Linked DNA regions of Homo sapiens. The protein of the gene in region 1 interacts with the protein of each later gene in a biochemical or structural test. Each region holds a gene or a part of one and is shown in the gene's direction. Other genes may lie near its edges.

What was found.
Region 2: the proteins of NHERF2 (region 1) and HTRA4 interact in a test that uses a peptide from one of them, tested with the Homo sapiens proteins (one large-scale study listed by IntAct).
Region 3: the proteins of NHERF2 (region 1) and F11R interact in a test that uses a peptide from one of them, tested with the Homo sapiens proteins (one large-scale study listed by IntAct).
Region 4: the proteins of NHERF2 (region 1) and TJP3 interact in a test that uses a peptide from one of them, tested with the Homo sapiens proteins (one large-scale study listed by IntAct).
Region 5: the proteins of NHERF2 (region 1) and PDZD2 interact in a test that uses a peptide from one of them, tested with the Homo sapiens proteins (one large-scale study listed by IntAct).
Region 6: the proteins of NHERF2 (region 1) and IQSEC2 interact in a test that uses a peptide from one of them, tested with the Homo sapiens proteins (one large-scale study listed by IntAct).
Region 7: the proteins of NHERF2 (region 1) and TBC1D10A form a complex in vitro, tested with the Homo sapiens proteins (2 studies listed by IntAct, with this or other methods).

Annotation. Positions count from the first base shown.
Region 1 is NC_000016.10:2,033,402-2,036,901, forward strand, and holds part of NHERF2 (Na(+)/H(+) exchange regulatory cofactor NHE-RF2), read left to right. Parts: coding exon of another isoform or gene 1-31; intron 32-187; exon of another isoform or gene 188-2,283; coding exon of another isoform or gene 2,284-2,292; intron 2,293-2,922; coding exon 2,923-3,102; intron 3,103-3,326; coding exon 3,327-3,480; intron 3,481-3,500.
Region 2 is NC_000008.11:38,980,728-38,984,227, forward strand, and holds part of HTRA4 (serine protease HTRA4 precursor), read left to right. Parts: intron 1-925; coding exon 926-1,040; intron 1,041-1,770; coding exon 1,771-1,828; intron 1,829-1,866; coding exon of another isoform or gene 1,867-1,895; exon of another isoform or gene 1,896-2,218; intron 2,219-2,225; coding exon 2,226-2,321; intron 2,322-3,500. UniProt on the Homo sapiens protein: Serine protease.
Region 3 is NC_000001.11:161,011,153-161,014,652, reverse strand, and holds part of F11R (junctional adhesion molecule A isoform 1 precursor), read left to right. Parts: intron 1-3,500. UniProt on the Homo sapiens protein: Seems to play a role in epithelial tight junction formation. Appears early in primordial forms of cell junctions and recruits PARD3.
Region 4 is NC_000019.10:3,746,384-3,748,848, forward strand, and holds part of TJP3 (tight junction protein ZO-3), read left to right. Parts: intron 1-101; coding exon 102-312; intron 313-392; coding exon 393-493; intron 494-1,410; coding exon 1,411-1,698; intron 1,699-2,465. UniProt on the Homo sapiens protein: TJP1, TJP2, and TJP3 are closely related scaffolding proteins that link tight junction (TJ) transmembrane proteins such as claudins, junctional adhesion molecules, and occludin to the actin cytoskeleton.
Region 5 is NC_000005.10:31,642,131-31,645,630, forward strand, and holds part of PDZD2 (PDZ domain-containing protein 2), read left to right. Parts: intron 1-3,500.
Region 6 is NC_000023.11:53,244,851-53,248,350, reverse strand, and holds part of IQSEC2 (IQ motif and SEC7 domain-containing protein 2), read left to right. Parts: intron 1-114; coding exon 115-237; intron 238-1,215; coding exon 1,216-1,382; intron 1,383-3,500. UniProt on the Homo sapiens protein: Is a guanine nucleotide exchange factor for the ARF GTP-binding proteins.
Region 7 is NC_000022.11:30,295,942-30,299,441, reverse strand, and holds part of TBC1D10A (TBC1 domain family member 10A), read left to right. Parts: intron 1-3,500.

The DNA of each region.
Region 1 (3,500 bases):
TCCACGGAGCCCACCCCAGAGGCTGGTACAGGTCAGGTGGGGTGGGAGGAAGGGAGGGCTAGGAGGAACCGGCAGCCGCTCAGCCTCCCGGGGTGGAAGGAGGGGACTCCGGGACCTTGATGTAAGCAGGCTGGTCGCTGAGCAACAATGAAGGCCTTTCTCTGCCAGGGCTGGTGCGTCACCATCTGGGGGGGTGCCCAGGGTACCCCCATGCCAGCCTCTTTGTCCGGACACAGGCATGGCTGGGGGACCAGGGATGGTCCAGCTCTGTGCTGGCCGCCGGCAGGGAGGGAGCCTGGAGCCCGTGGGAGCCCGAGGGCCTGGCGGGAGGCGGCAGGAAGTGTGTGCTGAGCCAGGGCAGGGAGGAGGAATGTGAGCTATGAACGCCGCCCGAGCTCCTCGGCTCTCTGGGCCCCCCTTCCCCACGAGCCCATGTGCTGCCAGCAGCCCACCCTGGCCCCTCCATTGCAGCCCCTCCACCTGAGGTTTTAGTGCTGTGCCTGGCGCCACTGGGACCCTGCTGACAATGAAGGGGTTTAGGTTTGATAGGCAGAACTTCTTGCCTTGTAGAGTGAAAGACGGCTGCTTCTGGACAGAGGCAGAGGGGTGGCCAGAATGACCCTGAGAACACTGAGGGGTCCTTGGCCTGGCCTCAGGGCCCCAGACACCCACCAGATCCTGCTTCCTGTCTGGTGCCCTGAGAAACCCTGCCCCGCAGGCCGCTGTGCAGGCGTGGGAAGGGCTGCCGGGCCAGCACTGTGGGGCTGGCCGCATGTGTGGGCTGCTGTGCGTGTTTGCAGGTGTGTGTGGACGTCTTGTGTCTGTGGCTGTGTGATGTGTCTTTGCGGACTGGGCCCATATCACGCTCCCACCTCCTCCACTGAATTGGGCTCCTGTCCCCACGCCTTCCCTGCGTCCCAGGCCAGCCTGGGGGCCGTGCTCCACCTCCCCTCCCGAACTGGACTCCTGTCCCCACGCCTTCCCTCCGTCCCAGGCCAGCCTGGGGGCCGTGCTCCACCTCCCCTCCCGAACTGGACTCCTGTCCCCACGCCTTCCCTCCGTCCCAGGCCAGCCTGGGGGCCGTGCTCCACCTCCCCTCCCGAACTGGACTCCTGTCCCCACGCCTTCCCTCCGTCCCAGGCCAGCCTGGGGGCCGTGCTCCACCTCCCCTCCCGAACTGGGCTCCTGTCCCCACGCCTTCCCTCCGTCCCAGGCCAGCCTGGGGGCCGTGCTCCACCTCCCCTCCCGAACTGGACTCCTGTCCCCACGCCTTCCCTCCGTCCCAGGCCAGCCTGGGGGCCGTGCTCCACCTCCCCTCCCGAACTGGGCTCCTGTCCCCACGCCTTCCCTCCGTCCCAGGCCAGCCTGGGGGCTGTGCTCCACTTCCCCTCCCGAACTGGACTCCTGTCCCCACGCCTTCCCTGCGTCCCAGGCCAGCCTGGGGGCCGTGCTGTGACTGCATCCCTGAGGGGCACTTTGGTGGGCAGGTGTCAGGGTCAGCCTTGAAGCCCCACGCCTGTGCCACCAGGTGTGTCTGGGGGAGGAGTGAGTCTATGTGGTGGGGCCCTGGAGATTTTGGGGGTCTTGCACCCTCTAATTCAGCCCATGTGGCCCAGCTGAGCCCCTGTGGGGCCAGGGAGCCACAGGCTTGTCCCTGGAGTTTCTGGTGTGACGGGCTGGGTGGTGGCCATGCAGAGAGGGTTCAGAGGGTGGGCAGGAGGCTTCAGATGAGGCATCTGGCAGGCTGGACAGGAGAAGGGTGTTCCAGACCAAGGGCAGGTCCTGAGCCCAGGGGACAGAGCACTAGCTGTGTGGAGAAGGACCCCCTTGCTCCCTTGGCGGGGCGGTCCCCCCCGCTGACATGGCCGTTTCTGGTCCATTGGGGTTTGGAGCGAGCTTGAAGGTGGGTGGCTGGAGGGGTTGGGGGTGTCTGAGGCCTGGAGACCTGCCCTCCTGAGGTCTGAGCGCCCCCTTGCCATGCCGCCCCAGCCCTGGCCTGGCCTGGCCTGTGGTCCCTCAGGGACACACAGGGAGGTAGGAGGTGAGGGAAGGGCCCTGGCAGCCCCCAGCCCGCCTGCACAGTCTCCCCTGCGCACGCCCTCAAGCTTGGCGCTCCCTGGAAACCTGAGCTGCCTCCTGCCTGCTCCGGCCACCGCCATGTTTAACTGAGCACGGGCAGCCGCTGGCCACCGCCGCCGCACCCTGGCCCACCCCCTGGCTGGGAGGTGGTCATTGGGCCTGGCCTTGCCTGCATGGTCCCCTGGCCCAGAGCCCTACCGCAGGATGCCAGAGGTAACATGGGGCAGGGCCTGGGATGGTAGCGGGGGGTCCTTCCGGGCACCAGGAGGCCCTCTGTGCCCTGTCCACACTAAGCTCCTGCCCCAGCCCCTGCTTGCTGGGCCCACGGGGGTGGGGCGGCTCATTTTCCTGGAATGTGAAAGCAAACAGAGCCGCCACCGCAGCCAGCCCCACGGAGGCCTCTGGAGAGAAAACAAAACTGCTGGCCTAGGAGCGCCTGCCCCACGCTCTGGAGGAGAGCCCGGGGCAGGGGGACGCACAGGCAGAGCCCTCAGGGACAACCGCCCCAGGAGGCCAACGGCGACAGTTCATCCCACCTGGTGCTTCCTCCCACCCTGCCTGTGCGCCACGCTGGCCTCGAGCCAAAGGAATTCTCCCAGCAACCCGGGAAGGCGGCTGGGCCCGTCGGGGAGGCTTCTGGGTTTGAAAACAGGCTTTGCCCAAGTTCCCACAGCTAAAGCTCTGTCACAGGCAGCCTGGGTGCCCGGAGTGTTTGCCACTGAGACCTGGGCCTGCCCGTGGGGGGCACGGTACCGAGTTTGGGCAGTGGCGGCACCACCGGGGAGTGGCCTCTGGAGGCGGGAGGCTGGAGCAAGAGACTGACCCTGTCCGTTGGGCCTGCAGGATGTCAGTGGGCCCCTGAGGGAGCTGCGCCCTCGGCTCTGCCACCTGCGAAAGGGACCTCAGGGCTATGGGTTCAACCTGCATAGTGACAAGTCCCGGCCCGGCCAGTACATCCGCTCTGTGGACCCGGGCTCACCTGCCGCCCGCTCTGGCCTCCGCGCCCAGGACCGGCTCATTGAGGTACCGGCCCACCAGGGCTGCGGGGTGCCGAGTGCCCCGCACCTGTCCACACTGGGGCCCTGGGTCCTTGCAGGGAGGAGGGAGACGCTGGGAACCTGAGCTGGTGCGCCTCCTGCTGCCTCGGTGGGCGGTGGCTGTGATGAATATTTGATGCCACACCTGGCCACGCGGCGTTGGGGGCTGTCTGGGCCCATGGCGGGGCTGATACATGCTGGTGGCGGCAGGTGAACGGGCAGAATGTGGAGGGACTGCGCCATGCTGAGGTGGTGGCCAGCATCAAGGCACGGGAGGACGAGGCCCGGCTGCTGGTCGTGGACCCCGAGACAGATGAACACTTCAAGCGGCTTCGGGTCACACCCACCGAGGAGCACGTGGAAGGTGGGCCACGGCCCAGGGCA
Region 2 (3,500 bases), on another chromosome or scaffold:
ACTCCGTCTCAAAAAGAAAAGAAAAAAAAAAAGAAATCTCTTTTTTATCCTTTCCCATTACCTAAAAGGCTAAAGGAAGATGAGGTACATAAAGAGGAAAATATTTTCTACCTCATACCTTTAGCTTAGCAGAGCTTTGTTCCCTAAGGTCAATTTTGCTAATTCTCAGTGCAGTGTTACTGACAATCCCACAGCTTTTTACCTTTTCCATGTTTATTTTTACTTTTAAATAATAAAAAGGCAAATGCTCCTTGTCCTTCTACCTTTGTCAAAATACAAACTGTGGCTCACTTTTAAAGTCAATGTAACTTACTAAAGGAAAAAAATGAGCTTAAGTTTTTTTTTTTTTTTTTTTTTTTTTTTTTTTTTTGAGACGGAGTCTCGCTAGGTCGCCCAGGCCGGAGTGCAGTGGCGCGATCTCGGCTCACTGCAAGCTCCGCCTCCCGGGTTCACGCCATTCTCCTGCCTCAGCCTCCCGAGTAGCTGGGACTACAGGCACCCGCCACCAGGCCCGGCTAATTTTTTATATTTTTAGTAGAGATGGGGTTTCACCATGTTAGCCAGGATGGTCTCGATCTCCTGACCTCGTGATCCGCCCGCCTCGGCCTCCCAAAGTGCTGGGATTACAGGCGTGAGCCACTCTGCCCAGCCATGAGCTCAAGATTTTAAAAAGTCCTCAGCATCCTTGATCCTTTGGCCATGAAAAGAAGGTAACTTCTGCGCATGTGCAGTTACCCTTTGCTGTCCCATCACACTATTTGCCCTATAAAGGAACATCCGTTGCTCTCTTTTGAAGTACAAAGTTCCTCTCGGCCCTGTTTTCTGACCCTAAGTAACTAGCTTCACTCCTTCTTCTGCTTGTTCTGGTCTTGCACTCATCAGTTTGCAAAACTTCATGACTGAATGATGTCCCCTCCCTTGCCAGGATGGTGATGTGATTGGCGTCAATTCATTGAGGGTGACTGATGGAATCTCCTTTGCAATTCCTTCAGATCGAGTTAGGCAGTTCTTGGCAGAATACCATGAGCACCAGATGAAAGGTAAAGCAAGTTGGGATTTTTTTTTTTTTGGTTTCGTCTTGTGCTTTTCAGGAACACTCAATCTTTTGTGGTGACAGCAATTTTTTTGTTTTTGTTTTTGAGACAGAATTTTGCTCGTCATCCAGGTTGGAGTGCAGTGGCGTGATCTTGGTTTACTGCAACCTCTGCCTCCTGGGTTCAAGCGATTCTCCTGCCTCAGCCTTCCGAGTAGCTGGGACTACAGGCACCCACTGCCACGCCCAGCTCATTTTCGTATTTTCAGTAGAGACGGGGTTTCACTATGTTGGCCAGGCTGGTCTTGAACTCCTGACCTCCAGTGATCCGCTTGCCTCGGCCTCCCAAAGTGCTGGGATTACAGGCATGAACCACCATGCCTGGCCCGGAGACAGCCATTTGAATCCTGTAGACTACTGGGTCACTCATTTGTACTCAGCTCCTATAATGGTGATTTGAGCAGCAATATTGGGGGACTAGGCACAAACCAAGCATGAGTTGTACCCAGAAGTATTTGGATTGAGCTAATGTGGAAATGAAACCCAGGGGCTGGAGGTGGGAGGTGGGTGGGAGGAGTGTAAGTGCTAATGACAAAGGTTCTCTGAAGCCTGTGTTTCATCCAGGTAACCTGAAAGGACAGCTGTGATGGCAAAGAGATCCTGGGACATGGGTGTCTTTTAAGCTGCGCTAACAGGAAAGAGGTTTTGTTGTAACACATCATAACTTTCCTTTCCAGGAAAGGCGTTTTCAAATAAGAAATATCTGGGTCTGCAAATGCTGTCCCTCACTGTGCCGTAAGCATGTGTTTGAATATGTCTGGGTTGTTTTTCAGAGGCAAAAACCATAGCTGCACAGTCTTAACAGAAAAGCTGAGCCACTTGGACCACAGCCAGGTACTCTTGTGACCATAGGCCCTATCTGTCTCAGGGTATGTATCTGCCTCTGCCTGCATCAGCACTAACTATACATAGTTTATTTCATTGTGGCTGTATTTTATAATGTCCAGTGGTTCTAGGCTTTGGGATAGAGGCTCAGCCCGAACTGAGAGGAGAATGACTGTGATTAGCTTGATGGAATCTTCCTCGGCCCTTGTGAACCTTGAGCAGAACAGAGTACCTACTAAGAATTTCAGGCTTTTACCAGGGCTCAGGAGACTAATTCATTGTTTCCTAATCTTCTCACTTCTCTTAGCCTTAGTGAAGAATTGAAAATGCATTATCCAGATTTCCCTGATGTGAGTTCTGGGGTTTATGTATGTAAAGTGGTTGAAGGAACAGCTGCTCAAAGGTAAGAGAAGTGAAGGCCTTTGTCATCTACCTTTGCTTTTTCTAAATGTGTGCCATGGTAAAATGCATGGGGGATCCAGACTTGATCTGTCCAATACAGTGGCCACTACTTACATGTAGTATGTACTGAGCACATGAAATGTGGCCAGTGTGACTGAGGAACTGAATTTTGAATTAAAGTAAGTTTAATTTAAATTAAAAAACCCAGGCCAGGTGCAGTGGCTCATGCCTGTAATCCCAGCACTTTGGAAGGCCAGGGTGGGTGGATCACCTGAGGTCAGGAGTTTGAGACCAGCATGGCCAACATACTGAAACCCCGTCTCTACTAAAAATACAAAAATTAGTGGGTGCGCCTGTAATTGCAGTTACTTGGGAGGCTGAGGCAGGAGAATCGCTTGAACATGGGAGGCAGAGGTTGCAGTGAGCTGAGATCACGCCACTGTACTCCAGTCTGGGCGACAGAGCAAGACTCCACCTCAAAAAAAAAAATATTATCATTATATAGTAGTATATTGGGGGGGTGTGTTATTTCAAGTGGATTTCAAAGACATAGGAAACAGAGTGTAAAATAACTATTTTAAAAATATCACGTTAAATGATAATATTTGGATATATTGTATTAAATAAGATATATTATTAAATTAAATTCATCTATTTAAAAATTTTTAAAAATGTGGCTACAAGAAAATTTAAAATTATGTATGTGGCTTGCATTATTGTCTACAGGACAGTGCTGATTCAGACTTGGGTACTTATAAAGGCTTTTTTTGTATTTTGGGAGGGAGGTGGTTCTCTATAGTCTAAGAAGAGCTCATGTTATGAGTTAATAGCATAAGTTTAAATTAATTTGGCTAGGAATTCCCAAATCTACCCTTTCAACATTAATAGTTATTACTTAATAACTATTAAGTGATTAACACCTATTAGGTATTAGTAACTATTAATTATTCATTAATAGTTTTTTTTTCTTTTGAGATGGAGTCTCACTCGTTGCCCAGGCTGCAGTGCAGTGGTGCAATCTTGGCTCACTGCAACCTCCACCTCTCAGGTTCAAGCAATTCTCCTGCCTCAGCCTCCCGAGTAGCTGGGATTACAGGCACCCGCCACCACGCTTGGTTAATTGTTGTATTTTTAGTAGAGACAGGGTTTCACCATGTTGGCCAGGCTGGTCTCGAACTCC
Region 3 (3,500 bases), on another chromosome or scaffold:
GCAGCCTTGACCTCCTGGGTTCAAGCAATCCTCCAGTCTTAGCCTCCTGAATAGCTGAGGCTATAGGCAAGTGTGAGTGGTGAGCCATACCTGGCTAATTTTTTATTTTTTTAGTACAGACAGGGTCTCATCTGTTGTACAGGCTGGTCTTGAATTCTTGGCTTTAAGGGATCCTTTTGCCTTGGCCTTTCAAAATGCTGAATGACAGGTATGAGTCACTACACCTGGCCCATATTGGTTTCTAGGGATTGTGGCCTTGGCTGTTAGGATACATCCCACCCCCCTCCAAGTCAGCTGAGTTCAATTTGCACTTGTTCTGTGGACACATAAATGGGCAACACACGTTTCCACCACACCCAAAAATAGATTTAAATGCCATGCACATTTTATGTGATAATAATGAGACTTGTTTATCACATCTGTTAGGTTTGACTAGAGACCCTGGAGATCTCTAAACTCAAACCAGTTTCTGTTTCAGAGATTCAGGAAAGACCTGGATGACCTTGCGTCCAACATAATTGAGGATGAGGTTTCACTATTGTGTGACGGTTGTGGAAAGCAGTATGAGTGAACACATACTGTGAGAGTGGATACACACTAGGGTTTTCCTGGCATTGAGAACCCAGAGTTCATCTGCCTGGACTCCCTGATAAGCAGGGTTTCTGTCTAAAGTCCGGCTGCGTCATTTGTTTCACAATGTAGGGGCGGAACAGGAGGAAGCAGCTGGCTGGCAGGAAGTGGGTGCTGGGCCCCTGAAGTAAGTCCTGCGCTGGAAGGCTCGACCTTCCCTTGCACTGGGAAGATGGGGTGGCGGGGGAGCTGAGCAGGTAGAACCGGAAATTCTGCAGAGAGGGCGGGAGGGAGCCAGGGAGTGAAAGCGAGCCTGTCTTACCCTGCCATTACCACTTTCTGCCATCCTCAGAGGACCCGAGCCAGCTGATCGACATCACTGAAAGTGCAGCCAAGGATGGCTATTTAGACATAGCCCAGCCTGTTGTTGGCCTCACAGAGCCTTCCTCTTGCTCACACATTTCTAAACTGTTCTACCCCAAACCCCGGAAAGGCCCTTCCCTGTGGAACTTCCCTGGCCCATGGAGCCTCTTGATCTTTACGAGGAGGCCAACCCTTATGGGAGTTACTTCAATCTCTACAGGGTGAGTGGTGGGGAGGAAGGGGAAAACCAGAGTGGAAGCTCTAGGTCCAGGTTCTAATTGTATTGCAGTGTGAAATTCACTTGTTAATCCAACAAACATTGGTGTTTACTATGTTCTGAGCACTGTGCTAGAGATTAGGGGGAAAACATGAAGTTAAACTGGGTATGCTGTAGCTGGTGGGGTGAGGAGGCCCTGACTCATCCTTCCTATTGCAGGGCTCCAGCTCCCTGGCAACTGGGGGGTCTTGTGAGTCTCATATGCCCAGAGGGAAGTTTGGATGAATTCTTAGAGAAAACCAGAGAGAGACTGGTTGACTGTTTTCCCTCCTTTTCCCCCTCCTCCTCTTTCTTCTTTTTTTTTTTTTTCCCTAAATGAACAACAGACACCAGGGCCTACTTGAGTTTAGAGGATGGGAGGAGGGTGAGGATAGAAAAACTACCTTTTGGGTACTTTGCTTATTAGCAGGGTAATGAAATAATCTTTACACCAAACCCCGACGACATGTAATTCATCTATATAACAAACCTGCATATGTACCCCTGAGCCTAAAATTAAAGTTAAAAATAAATAAATCGGCCGGGTGCAGTGGCTTACGCCTATAATCCCAGCACTTTGGGAGGCTGAGGCGGGTGGATCACCTGAGGTCAGGAGTTCAAGACCAGCCTGGCCAACATGGTGAAACCCTGTTTCTACCAAAAATACAAAAATTAGCCGGGCATGGTGGTGGGTGCCTATAATTCTAGCTACTTGGGAGGCTGAGGCAGGAGAATTGCTTGAACCCAGAAGGCAGAGATTCCAGTGAGCTGAGATCATGCCATTGCTTTCCACCCTGGGTGACGAGAGCAAAAACTCTGTCTCAAAATAAATAAATAAATAAATAAATAAATAAATAAATAAAATTAATTAATTCAAACGACACAAAAGCAACTCAAGGAAAATTCTTTTTTTCTTTTATTTTTATAGAGATCAGAGCCTCTCTCTTTTTAAAATTTGTTATATTCTTTTTTATGTTGTATTTCTTCTTTTATGTTTTGTTATTGATATCCCTGAGGCATAGAGATGGGATCTTTCTATGTTGCCCAGGCTGGTCTTGAACTCCTGGGCTCAAGTGATTCTCCCATCTTGGCCTTCCAAAATGCTGCGATTATAAGCCTAAGCTGCTGCACTGCACCTGGCCAGAAAATTCTAATAATTAACAGGATATCTAGAAAAAACTAAAGGTTTCTTAGCAAAGTAGTAGAAGGAAGTAGGTCCTTTTCTGTTATGGGTCTGACCTGACCCTTCACGTACAAGGGATGGTTGTTGGTGGGTTCTGTTAAGAGTCTGGAGGCCTCTGCCTTCTGTGACCATCTTCTCACCCCAGCAGTGCTTTGGTGCAGTTCATCGAGCACCTCCTCTGTGCAAAGTGTAGTGCTGGGAGCTGGGGAAGGATACAAGCAGAACTCAAGAAACTGCAGACACGTATTGACTAGGTAGAGTACAGAGCAGCGTGTGCCAGGGGCTGTCAACAAAGTACAAAATGTTTTAGGAGCATAGACGAGAAGAGAGTAACTTTTTAAAGATATAAGCTTTTTGTTTTATTAAAAAAAGTGATACATGCTCCATGTAGAAAAATAGGAAAATGCAAAGGACTATGGAGAAAATAAAATCACATGTAATTCTATTATCTAGAGATAAACACTTATTACTGGTGTTTCATTCTAGTCTTTATGAATTAATGTGTGAGATACGTCTATATTTCCTACAAAATATACTTTTTTTTTTTTTTTGAGGTGGAATCTCGCTCTGTCACCCAGGTTGGAGTGCAGTGGCACAATCTCAGCTCACTGCAACCTCCACTTCCTGGGCTCCAGCAATTCTCTGCCTCAGCCTCCCAAGTAGCTGGGATTACAGGTGCCCACCACTACGCCTGGCTAATTTTTTTGTATTTTTAGTAGAGATGGGGTTTCACCATCTTGGCCAGGCTGGTCCTGAACTCCTGACCACCTGTCTCGGCCTCTCAGTGTTGAGATTACAGGTGTGAGCCACCGCGCCTGGCCCAAAATATACTTTAAGGTCCTTTCTACATTATTCCTAAAGTATGGCTATATCATAATTTACTTATTCACCTTTTGTTGGGCATTTAGATTTCTTTTTTTTCTTTGTTATACTAAATAACATTAAATTGGCTGGGCATGGTGGTTCATGCCTGTAATCCCAGCACTTTGGGAGGCTGGGGCGGACGGATCACTTGAGGCCAGGAGTTTGAGACCAGCCTGGCCAATGTGGTGAAACCCCGTGTCTATCAAAAGTACAAAAATTAGCTGGGTATGGTGGTGTGTGCCTGTAATCCCAGCTACTGGAGAG
Region 4 (2,465 bases), on another chromosome or scaffold:
TGGGGTCCACTCTGACCTCAGACTCTTCATCTTTCTATCTTTCTCTCTCTGTTTACCCTGCTGCAATCCCCCTCACCCCAACGTCCGCCGGCCTGGCCCAGGACAAGCATGCGCTCCTGGATGTGACCCCCTCCGCCATCGAGCGCCTCAACTATGTGCAGTACTACCCCATTGTGGTCTTCTTCATCCCCGAGAGCCGGCCGGCCCTCAAGGCACTGCGCCAGTGGCTGGCGCCTGCCTCCCGCCGCAGCACCCGTCGCCTCTACGCACAAGCCCAGAAGCTGCGAAAACACAGCAGCCACCTCTTCACAGGTTGGGGGGTGGGTGTCCCAGGGTAGGCGGGTGGGCCCCAGCCTGAGTCTCCTGCACACACTGACGTCCCCTCCCTGCAGCCACCATCCCTCTGAATGGCACGAGTGACACCTGGTACCAGGAGCTCAAGGCCATCATTCGAGAGCAGCAGACGCGGCCCATCTGGACGGCGGAAGATCAGGTACTGCCGCGGTGTGGGTGGGTCGGGCAGGGAGGCCCCACAGACGCTGTGCAGGCCCAGCTGGGGTTTGGGGCCTCTGTCGGGAGTTAGGGCTTGGTCAGGGATCAGGACTGTGGCCAGAGTCAAGATGGGACCTGAGACAAGGGTGTTGGACTGGAACTTGGGTGAGATGAGATTGGAGGAGCTGTTTTTTGTTGTTTGATTTGAGATGGAGTCTCATGTCACCCAGGCTGGAGTACAGTGGTGTGATCTCAGCTTGCTGCAACCTCCGCCTCCCGGGTTCAAGTGATTCTCCTGCCTCAGCCTCCCGAGTAGCTGGGACTACAGGCGAGCGCTACCAGGCCCAGCTAATTTTTGTATTTTTAGCAGAGACGAGGTTTCACCATGTTGGCCAGGCTGGGCTCAAACTCCTGACCTCAGGCGATCCACCTGCCTCAGCTTCCCAAAGTGCTGGGATTACAGGCCTGAGCCACCGCGCCCAGCCTGGAGGAGCTGTTTTGAGAATGGAGTCAGTGGGGCACGGGAGCTCACGCCCATGGTCCCAGCTACTCAGGAGGCTGAGGCAGGAGAATCACTTGAACCCGGGAGGCAGAGGTTGCAGTGAGCAGAGATTGCGCCACAGCACTCCAGCCTGGCAACAGAGACTCCTTCTCATAAAAAAGAGAGAGAGAATGGAGTCTTCTCTTGGGGCTGGAGTCAAGGTTTGGGGCTCAGCTTGGATTTGGGGGCTGAGCCTCTCAGGTGAAGGGTCAATGGATACAACCCATCCTGGAGTCAACAGAGAAGCCTCCACTGAGGCTCCAGGCTCCAGGCTCCTCGCCTTGATTTGGGACCAGAGTTTGAAGGTGGGGGGATGTCGTGGGTGGCAGCTGGGGTCCTGGCCAGGGCCAGCCGCAGCATCCACACCCACCCCACAGCTGGATGGCTCCTTGGAGGACAACCTAGACCTCCCTCACCACGGCCTGGCCGACAGCTCCGCTGACCTCAGCTGCGACAGCCGCGTTAACAGCGACTACGAGACGGACGGCGAGGGCGGCGCGTACACGGATGGCGAGGGCTACACAGACGGCGAGGGGGGGCCCTACACGGATGTGGATGATGAGCCCCCGGCTCCAGCCCTGGCCCGGTCCTCGGAGCCCGTGCAGGCAGATGAGTCCCAGAGCCCGAGGGATCGTGGGAGAATCTCGGCTCATCAGGGGGCCCAGGTGCGTCGGACATGGGGGGCAGGCCTGGGAAGGGTCTCCGGAGGGGATGCCAGCACAGAGCAGACACACACTGGGAGCCTGTTTTCTACCAGGACGTCAACAAACACGGCTTCCCTGGTCAGACTGGTTTCTGGGACTCAGACCTGGGGTAGCTGAGACCCACGTGGCACTGAGTAACTTGCAGCATTTTTTTTTTTTTTTTTTTTTTGAGACGCAGTCTTGCTCTGTCGCCTAGGCTGGAGTGCAATGGCGCAATCTTGGCTCACTGCAACCTCCACCTCCCAGGTTCAAGCGATTCTCCTGCCTCAGCCTCCTGAGTAGTTGGGATTACAGGCACCTGCCACCATGCCCGGCTAATTTTTGTATTTTTAGTAGAGACGGGGTTTCACCATTGGTCAGGCTGGTCTTGAACTCCTGACCTTGTAATCCACCCGCCTTGGCCTCCCAAAGTGCTGGGATTACAGGCATGAGCCACTGCACCCAGGCTTTTTTTTTTTTTTTTTTGAGATGGAGTTTCGCTTTTGTTGCCCAGGCTGGAGTGCGATGGCGTGATCTCGGCTCACCACAACCTCCGCCTCCCAGGTTCAAACGATTCTCCTGTCTCAGCCTCCTGAGTAGCTAGGATTACAGGCGTGCACCACCATGCCTGGCTGATTTTGTATTTTTAGTACAGACAGGGTTTCTCCATGTTGGTCAGGCTGGTCTGGAACTCCAGCCTCGGCCTCCCAAAGTGCTGGGATTACAGGTGTGAGCCACTGCACCCGGCC
Region 5 (3,500 bases), on another chromosome or scaffold:
CCTACTGCACCATCCACAAGGGGACAAATTCCAAAGATGAACCCACAAAAGGTCAGGAGCAAATCCAAAGAGAGGCTGAATCTCTTTAAGAAGACAGACTTAGAGACTCAAGTTTTCAGCTTCTTTCTTCTGCCCTCAGACACATCCCCGCAGCACCAGGGAGGATGCTGAGGTCAGAGTTGAGTTTCAAGGACAGGAAGAGCTATGCAGACAAGCCCATGAGAGAGGTTAGCAGACAAGTGGAGAGGCAGGGATGTCTCAGAGACGCCCATCCCCAGAAGGATGATAGGAAAAGGCCACTGATAGAACAGTGTCTGCAAGGGGTGTTCATGAAGCCAGGCTGCAAGGGAAGAAGGAGACAATGATTGCCAAGACAGTGAAACTGCAGGTATAGACACTGGATCCAGAAGTGTGCTGTTTGAAAATAATCCACAGTATTTTGAGGAGGTTGTAGCATTGAAGGAGGGTTTATTCATGAGAGTCCCTCCATTCTCCCTCCCAGGCATGTTTGGTAAACAAAAGAGATGTGGGAGAGAGTAGAGAAGCTAGATCAGGGGTGTTTGGGCTGGAAGAGGTGAGCAAGTGCAGGGAAAGAACAATCCTGGCATCTGCCTTCTCTGGAAGGCCAGAGGGAAGCAGAGGTTGGTGAGGCCCTGGAGAGAATGAGGAAAACAGGGGAGGCATTTGCTGAGACCTGGGGTCACTTCGTGAAGCTGGGGCCTGGAGGAAAGGGCTGCGGTACTGCTGCCTGCCAGGGGAAGCAAACCCGGCACCTGGCACCAGTGGAGGCAGCCAGGAGGGAAAGGAAGGACTCCTGAGTTGGGGTCAGAGGCTTTGGCTGGAATCCTAGCAGTGCAGAGAACTTCCTGCTGGGCCAGATGATTAGAAATGTTGAAGCCTCCATTTGCTCATGTATAAAATTGATGCAGTCGCTACTTCACAGGGTTGTTCTTAGGAGGAATCGAAAGAGGTACTAAGGTGTGTTTGGAAGGCCCTCCATGACCGCATCTGCTGTATAGGGGGTCCTTTCGAACAGTGTGTCCAGAAATGCATAAACCTCTCACCAAAGTCAGTGAGAGCCCAGTGGAATGGAGAAGGCAGGAGTTTTTAGCAGACTTGCCTGAAGCTTTCTTTCAGCTGTGGATGAAAAGTTTTGGACTACTCTGAGCAGTTGGGTCTCCCTGTTTGCACCTTGACAAATCCTTCAAGATTTCTGCCTTTTAATCCATTGGCTTGTTGCAGTGCTGCGTCTAAATTTAATGTCCCTCTCTTTTGCAAAGATCCAGTTACCAGGTGCAAGGCAGGAAGAGGCTGGACAGTCTCCTCTGTCCTCCATGGTTTGGAAGGGCATCATGCACTCACACTCGGTAACACCTGCATTTGAGGAAGCTAAGGCCCAGAAAAACAGAGAACTTGCCCCATTAGACAACCAGAACTAGAGTCACAAAACACAGTTGCTTGATCTGGGGAACTCTTGTCTTTCAATAGCAGTGGTGTTGGCCAAGATGCAGGTGGCTGAGGAAGAATTAAAAATCTGCAATCCCCCTTGGTTTTATTAATGGGTCTTTGATTATAGTTGAAAAGATGAAAAAACAGTCTCACTTATTAGTGAAGCGGGAAAGAAAAGGAGCATTTGACTTACTAAACACTAAGTAGATATGTGCCAAATTAAATGAAATTGGGGAAAATGTGAATAATTTTTTTTTTTTTTGAGACAGGGTCTCACTCTGTCACCCAGGCTGCAGTGGCATGACCACGGCTCACAGCAGCCTTGACCTCCCCGGCTCCAGTGATCCTTCCACCTCAGCCTCCCAAGTAGCTGGGAAGCTGGGACTACAGACACCACCGCACCTGGCTAATTTATTATTTTTTAAAAATTTTTTGTAGAGATGGGGTTTTACCATGTTGCCCAGGCTGGTATCAAACTCCTGGGCTCAAGCGATCCACCCACCTCAGCCTCCCAAAGTGCTGGGATTATAGGCATTGAAGAATGTTTTTTAAGGAAATTAAAGTATAGAATTATCTGGAAAATTTTCTGAAATTATTCCTTATTTTCCAACCGGATGGTCTATGTCTAGATTTGGACCTATGCATCGGTTGCATATAAAAGGATAGATCTTTTTATGGTATCTAGAAATTTGACAATCTTGATCTCCTATTATCCATACTTTAGAAATAGAGAAAAGATGGAATTGGAAAAGAATACATTTCCCATGGGTTCTAGCGGGGAGTGTTTGAAGCCAGGTAGGTCATCTGATTCAGTCTGATTGTCTGAGAGCTAAAGAGTTCTGCCTTCTATTTACAAATGTGTTCAAGAAGACACTGGGAGCATTTACAATTTGAAAACTTAATAGTTGAAGAGGCCTTTTGTGGTCTGATAAGGCGGCTGAGCCGAGAGATGGTTTGTTAAGACACTAAGCATGCGGAGAAGACACATTTGTCTTTTAAGCCTCTCCAGCTCCAGGAAGAGGCCTACCCCCGGCCGTGGCTTCTCTCCAATGCCAGTAGTGTGTTCACCCCACACTCTTGATGGGGCCAGCAAACAGTCTCCATTCTGAAAGTTCTGGCTGCTCCATGCATGCATTCCCTACCAGAATGCGTTCTGAGTGAATAATGAGTGGTCTATGAACTTCCAGAAAATCAGAAACTTAAGATTCTCAACTCTCTTTATGAAGCCATTGAATGAAACCAGATAGCATTGAACACCTGGTTGACAAAGTTATTCTTGGATTATATGTTTTTATATACAGTGTTTCTGGGGCTCATCAAGCCCTCTAGGTAGGAGGCCTGAAGAGGTTTTGGAGAAGCAGCATTGGGGGAACCGACTTCACAGCACAGAGGATTAATTTTGCACACACAATTGTTGCGAGCTCTGAATGAAATAATAGCAAGGAGATGGGGGAAGTTTTGTTGTCTTTTAAGTCTAAGAAGCAGCCTGAAATGCCTAGATATCCACAGGAGGATTTAAAAAATCACAAATTCTTAAGGATCTGCAAGTCCTTGAAAGGGCATTATCCAATCTCTTGCCTTCAGGGAGGAATAAACTTAGCTCATTCCAGTTAAGGATCTATGGTTTTAACAGCTTCCTGAGGAAGGGGCGTCCATGGCATATTTGGCCCTTAACACAGTGATGCCCCAGACTGGTTCTTTGAGGTGTTTTAGCAGGAGTCGAAATGGATTTCAGAGGGGTTACTCTTGGTCTCTTTTTTTTTTTTTTTTTTTTTGAGACGGAGTCTTGCTCTGTCGCCCTGCCTGGAGTGCAGTGGCGCGATCTTGGCTCACTGCAACCTCTGCCTCCCAGGTTCAAGTGATTCTCCTCCCTCAGCCTCCTGAGTAGCTGGGACTACAGGTGCGTGCCACCACACCCAGCTAATTTTTGTATTTTTAGTAGAGACGTGGTTTCACCATGTTGGCCAGGATGGTCTTGATCTCTTGATCTTGTGATCCGCCTGCCTTGGCCTCCCGAGGTGCTGAGATTACAGGCGTGAGCCGCTGTGCCC
Region 6 (3,500 bases), on another chromosome or scaffold:
CCTGAATTTGAGAGTCTATCAGTGGGGGTGTTGGTCCATTTGAGCAGGTCCAGGTGGGTCAGAGGTTTTCTGCAGAGGAATTGAAAGCGCCACACCTCCTTCTTTGCTCCTTAGCTGTGTGGTGGATGAGATGGACTTCTCCTCCATGGATCTGGATGATGCGCTCCGGAAGTTCCAGTCCCATATCCGGGTTCAGGGTGAGGCCCAGAAAGTGGAGCGACTCATCGAAGCCTTCAGGTGTGCCTACCTCCCACTCGCGAAGCTGCCCCTCCCTCCTGTGGGCATCGACGTAGTATGTGTTTATAAGTCACTTCTCTGAGCCTCATACTTTCTTCACCATAAAACAGAGATGATAAATCCTATCTTGCAAGGCAATTGTGAGGATCAGAGGTAGTGCATATAAAGTATCTAGCTCAGCCTCTGGGACATGGGCATTCGATAAGTGACAACAACATCAGCAATAACAGCTAACATTCACGGAGCACTTACTAGGTATCAGGTGCAGAGCTGAGCACTTTACATGATTATTTCACCGAATAATCACAACCACCCCATAAAGTAGGCACTTCTGTTATTATTCCCATTTTACAGATGAGAAATCAGAAGTTTAGAGAGGTTAAGTAACTTGCCCAGGCTCATACAGTGAATAAGTGGTAGAAACAGGATTTGAACTCGTATGTGTCTGAGTCCATGATCCATCCATGCCCTTAACCATTTTACTGTACTATAAATGCTTTGGAGATCAGATAGACTGGGGTCTAAATCCTGGCTCTGCCACTTTAGGGTATTTAGAAGAGAAACAGGAGTTGCTGAGAACTTGTTTCCCACAATGGGGGAAGGATTTGCTTTGCAGTCAGAAATAACTGGGTTTTCATCCTGGCTTCACCATTTACCAGCTCTATTACCTTGGGCAAGTTACCTCGCCACTTTGAGTCTTAGTCACTTCATCTGTAAAATGGGACTGCCAATAGCTACCTTGCAGGATTATGATAGGATTACGTGAAACAACGTACATAAATCCCCTGGAAGAGCTCTGTAAAAGGTAGCGATTGTGATTTTTACATGCTGGTCTAGGGGAAGCTCTGAAGAGGACAGACCCAGAGATCAAGAAAGTATTTCTTGCAGGAAAGGGTTGCTGGTGCCAGACTGGGTGGATGGTGGGTAGGCAGAGATGGCTGGTTCCTGAGTCTGGCTTTGACCCCTCCTGCCCTGCAGCCAGCGGTACTGTGTCTGTAACCCAGCCCTCGTGCGCCAGTTCCGGAACCCAGACACCATCTTCATCCTTGCTTTTGCCATCATCCTCCTCAATACCGACATGTACAGTCCCAGCGTCAAAGCTGAACGAAAGATGAAACTAGATGACTTCATCAAGAACCTGAGAGGTGACTTCCCTGTCAGCTTTTCCTGCCCTTCACCTGGAAAGGGAAAGTGGGGGGTAAGGGGAAGGATGCAGGAGATCCCATCTGTTCCTTGGAAATTAATTTGTGATGCTGTCACTTTCTGCCCTAGCTGGATGTTCCCAGGATATTCACTTATTAATTCACTCAAATCGTCATTTGCCCATTGTACTGAGCTTCTACTGTGTACCAGGTTTCTAGGTCCTGGGGTTCAAGCAGTGAACATGATAGATTAAAGTCCTGACTCTTACAAGGCTTTACTCTGATTCATTCATTCATTCATTCAGTAATTCACTTGTCCTTTCCTCGCTCCTTCTTTCCCTCTCTTATTTATGCCCATGAGGACTCATTTAATTATTTTAGGTACCTTTTCCTCTATTCATGCATTCATTTATCACTCGACCAAACAACCAGCCAGCCAGTCAACACTTAGCGCTTAGTGTGTGCCAAGCCCCATGATGGGTGCCAAGGACAATGGAGGGGAATCTGCCATACTCCCTGTTCTGAGAGAGCTCCCTGTGTGTGGGAGAGGCTGACTTGTAGCACCCAGATAACTAACATAAGACAGAAAGTGAACAGTGACATCAGAGAGGCCAAAAGTGCAGTCAGAGCTCAAAGGAGGGAGAGCCCACCTCTAGCTAGCTTCCTGGAGGAGGTAGTATTTTTATTTTAAGGTGGGTCTTGAAGGCATGGAGAAGGTGACACAATAGAGATAGAGGAGGGCTTACCTAGCAATGAGAATACCAAAGGCGCAGAGGCAGGAACATTTATTTTCTTTAGGGAACAATTGAGGGCTGGGTACGTTGGCTCACACCTGTAATCCCAGCACTTTGTGAGGCTGAGGCAGGTGGATCCCATGAGGCCAGGAGTTCCAGACCAGCCTGGCCAACATGGGGAAACCCCATCTCTACTAAAAATACAAAAATTAGCAGGCATGGTGGTGCACACCTGTAATCCCAGCCACTCAGGAGGCTGAGGCAGGAGAATTACTTGAACCTGGGAGGTAGAGGTTGCAGTGAGCTAAGATCGCACCACTGCACTCCAGCCTGAGTGACAGAGCAAGACTCTGTCTTGAAAAAAAAAAAAAAAAAAAAAGAACAATTGAGATGAGGTCATTGATGGGTTGGGAAGGTCCCAATATATGAGGTTCCAATATATGGAACCAATATATGAGGGCCTTGAATGCCAGATGAAAGGTGTCACCTTGCTCTTTTTGCTTATTCTACTGATGTCGAGCCCTGCCTATCACCAAAGAGCAGCTACTAAAAATGGTACAGATGTTAAGATTATTTAAGCAGAAAAGAAAGAGGGAAATAGAGTCAAAGAAAAAAAGCAAACTGAACACAAGACAAATTGGCTGCCCATCAGGTTTGTGCCGCTGTGGCTGCTCTGGTAAGAAAGTCAGTGCGATGTAGTATGTTCCTTTAGCACCTGTCCAAGGAGGAGATGTGACATTTCCAAGGAAGAAAACATTTTTTTTGTTTTCTGTTTTTTTATTTTATTTGTTTTTTTTTTTTTTATTTTTAGAGACAGGGTCTCACTCTCTCACCCAGGCTGGATTGCAGTGGTGCTAGCAGAGCTCACTGCAGCCTTGAACTCCTGGGCTCAAGCGATCCTCCCACCTCAGCCTCCTAAGTAGCTGGGACTATAGGCGCGTGCCACCATGCCCAACTAATTTCTAAATTTTTTGTAGAGACAGGGTCTTGCTAGGTTGCCCAGGCTGGTCTCAAACTCCTTGCCTCAACTCGGCCTCCCAAAGTGCTGGGATTACAGGTGTGAGCCTCCACGTCCTGCCCAGAAAACATTTTCTCTAGTAGAGGATTTAGAGAGAAGAGTGAGTGGGTTTCACTCAGCAATCAGAAGTGGAGAAGGATGGTGAACATGGGAGGAGGGAGTTAGATCAGAGGCCATTTGGAGCTGTCTCCTAGAATTTTGCCATCATTCATTCATCCATTCTTTTTCCCTCTCTCTCTCAATATATGTGTGTGTGTGTGTGGGTGTGTGTGTGTGTATGTGTAACTTCCCCCTCTAATTATTAAATAAATAAGCAAATAAATGAAGGTAATACATACTTTATTTCAGAAATGTTGGAAGATTCAGAAA
Region 7 (3,500 bases), on another chromosome or scaffold:
AAGTTTCCCTTCCTTTGCCCTGCCCTCCCTTCCGCATCTCTTGGCGTCCTCCCCATGGCGGCAATCCTCCATGTGCTCACCTGAACCTCACAGGATGAGCAGTCCATGAAACCTCCAGTCATGTGCCCAACTGCCCAGGCCCCAGCAGGCCAGACCGGCCCAGTCCTGGGTACCTGTGTCTCCTGGAGGGTCTGTACAACTGAGGCTCCAGCCCTGAGCAGCCCTCAGTGGAATGGCCAGATTTGGTACCCCCTATTCCAGCTCTTTCTCTTGATGACCACTCAGGTTTTGCTTTCCTGGGCTCAGTAGGCTACCTCCCTGCTCTTGGTCATCAGGAGGGGACACTCAGACCATTTCCCTGACTGCCTTGGGCCCTGTGCCCTGGGCCTATGGGGGCTTGACTAGCAGGACCACAGGTCCTTCAGTGTCTCCCGGCCTCCCATCCTCTACTTTCTCCTGCCTTGTCCAAGCCTGGCCAGCACAGCCCACCTGTGTGTCTTGTGGGGTCATCAGCCCTAGGAGTAGCAGAGCCAAACCCAAGGGGGCTGAAGGGAACTGCCCAAGTAGCTCAAGGGGTCAGACGCCAGTCAGTGGCCAGAGAGGGTGCCCTCTGTTGTTATCCCTCCTCCTGTCCCGATATCCCTCCTGCTGCTCCCTGCCCCATGGCTGGCCAGAGTAAAATACCTCTCCATTCAGAGCTGGGCAGCTCCTCCAGCCTGCTCCCCCAGGGAACTATGGGGAAGCAGTTGGATTCCCTGGGGTTGCCCCGGCTTACCTGCCAGATCTGGCCGCAGGCATCGGGGTTTCTCGCAGGCCCTTGGGACTGGTGACAGGCAGACAGTGAGACAGAGCAGAGCTGCCTACCACCAGCTCTTTGTTGACATATCTCATGCTTCTTCATTGAACACTCCAGTCTTGCCAAACCTGTTCCTTGAGATGACTGGGCAGGAGCAGGGCAAGGTAGCCTAGAGTTTCTGCTGTTGACCTGGAGAGGGCGAGAGCTTTTTGCTGGCAACACGTGGACTTGCAGGGGCAGGGAAGCTGGTAGAGTGTCTGGCTGGGGTAGGTCTGAATCTGGCTGATTGGATTATTCCCCAGAGCACCAATACCAGGCCACACTGGAGCAGCCTCTTGACTCCAGAGTCTTCCTCCTAGTGGCTACATCTCTTCCATTTCGAGGGGCCGCATCCTGGGCAAAGTGGGAGGCTCAGGGGTGGGAACCTCAGTCCAAGTCCATAGTTAAAATCAGGCTGCCAGAGCCAGGCATGAGAGCCAAGAGCGTGGGCAGCCTGGTCAGCCTCTTGGCTGTGTGGTTCAGCAAGCATGAGTGTGTGTGCAGCAGAACACAGAGCTGTGTGCATGTGTGTGTAGAGCTGTGCTTCCAGAGAAGAATCAGCCACCCCCCAGGGGGTCTGGAAAGTTGCTTGTGTGAGGAGGTGGATTTGCAGAGAAGGCCTTCTTGATGCACCGAAGCTGAGTGACGGGTTCCTGCATGGTTCTGGGGGCTGGAAGAATGGTTTGTGAGCACACCTGGAAAGACTTTGCCTGTGGGTGACCCAGAGGAAGCATGAGGAGCTTCCCCTGGTTGCTGCGGGTCCTGTGCCGAGGCAGGGCACAGTGGGGGTCTGGTGATGGCAGCATGCACCTGTTTCTGTGCTCTCTCCCCACAGGGCCCTCCATTCAATACCCAGTCCAGGTGGCCCATCCCAACCTCAGCATTCAGGGCAGGCTCTGCAGGTGCTGGTGGCTCCTTCTCCTGCACGTGCTATTTCTTCCTCCTTCCTTGGGCAGGCAGGACCTCCTGTCCTTTTTTACCTGGCTTTCTTCTCTGGCTTCACCTTATGATGGCGCCAGTACCCCTCAGGCTGGTGGAGGCTACAGGCCCCATGACCATGGTACCTGCTTGTCTGCCGGTGCCCTTTCGATCTGCAGCTACCCTCTTTTCCTTTCTCACCAACCATGTGTGGCCAAGTGCCTTAGGCTGCTGAAGTGCCAGATGAACACATCCTAGGAACTGACTTCCGGGGTTTTCGGGTTCCTACCTCATGGGAACTGCTAGGAGAATTTGTGGGGCCCTCTTCCCCATTCTGACAAAAGCAAACCTGCACTGCGCTCAGACAGTACTTAGAGGTGCACAGTACACAGACCCCCATCACAAGGGTGTGTGGGGCCCCAGAGGCACGCATCCACCGCTCCGCTATGTGCCTGCTCTAGGGCTCTGTGTGGAGGCCCCAGCCCCTCCCTGTCCCCTCCAGCCCTGAACACTCTGTCAGCCGCTCCTCTCAGTCCTTACCCTCTAGTCAAGTTCCTGGCACCCTAGGTTCTTGAGCTTAATGCTAGGACACTCCCACTGAGGGCCAGAGAGGGAAAGGGGCTTGTATGAAGTCACCTGCTCGTCAGGGCAGGGCCTGTGTCTGCGCCCACTGGGTATGTTTGCTGAGGACCTGGCCTCCCTCCTGAGGGCCTTCCCTGATGCTGCCCCTGCCCTGCAGGCAACTTGTACTTAAACCAACACTCCCATGAAGGTGCCTGGGCCACACCTTTCAGCACATTCTGGTTCCTCTGGTGAATACTCTGCTTCCCTGCTCAGCCCTCTGGGCTTCCTCCTTATTTATTTTTTCTTTCTTTTTTAAAAATTGAGGTATGAATTTACATACAGTAAAATGCATAGATCTTGAATGTGCATGCAGTTCAGTGAGTTTTGATAAATAATACACATCCATGTAACCAACATGCAGATCAAGGTAGAGAACATTTCAAATGACCAAGAAAAGATTTTCCTTTTTGTAATGGCTTTGTTGTTTTGTAAAGGTGCACATACTGAAGCGTTCACAGAAGTTCAAAGAAAAGAGTAAAACTTTGTTGAAACCTCGGCACCCAGAGAAGTATCTGAGGTTAATGGTTTGACAGATGTCATGTCCTTCCAGAAAGAGCTCTGTGCAGATCTCACACACACCTGGCTTCCTGGATAGTTGACGCCACCTGCACAGGGAGGCATGTAGCTGAGGAGCTGGGATGGACGGCTTTGAGTCAGACCTGGCTTCCAGTCCCAGCTCCACCATTTTTCTAGCCAGAGTTAAATACCTTGACATGAGGCCTTGACATTCAGTTTTCTCATCTGCGAACAGGGTGTAATGATAGGTCCTATCTCTGGAGGTTGGGGAGCAGGATCAGTAAGGCCCACAGGTACCCTGTGCCCAGCTTAGCGCCTGGCTCAGAGAAGTGGGAACAGCTGGTAGCTATTGCTCAGAGAAGCAGCCTTCTGTCTTAAGGATGTGACATAATGTATCTGACTCCCGAATGAAATGTCTAGAGGTCCTTCCAGCCGCAGCTGGAGTGGACACTCTTGCCCTCATCGGTCTTCCTAGAGCCAGGTTTAAGGTTTCCAGGGCCCTTCCCTCCTTGCCCCTTTGCCCCTGCCCAGGCATTCCTTACCTGAGCTTCTCTTCCTGTCCTTGGGAAGGCCCAGTCTGTGATGGGCTTGGGTGGGCACTGCCCCT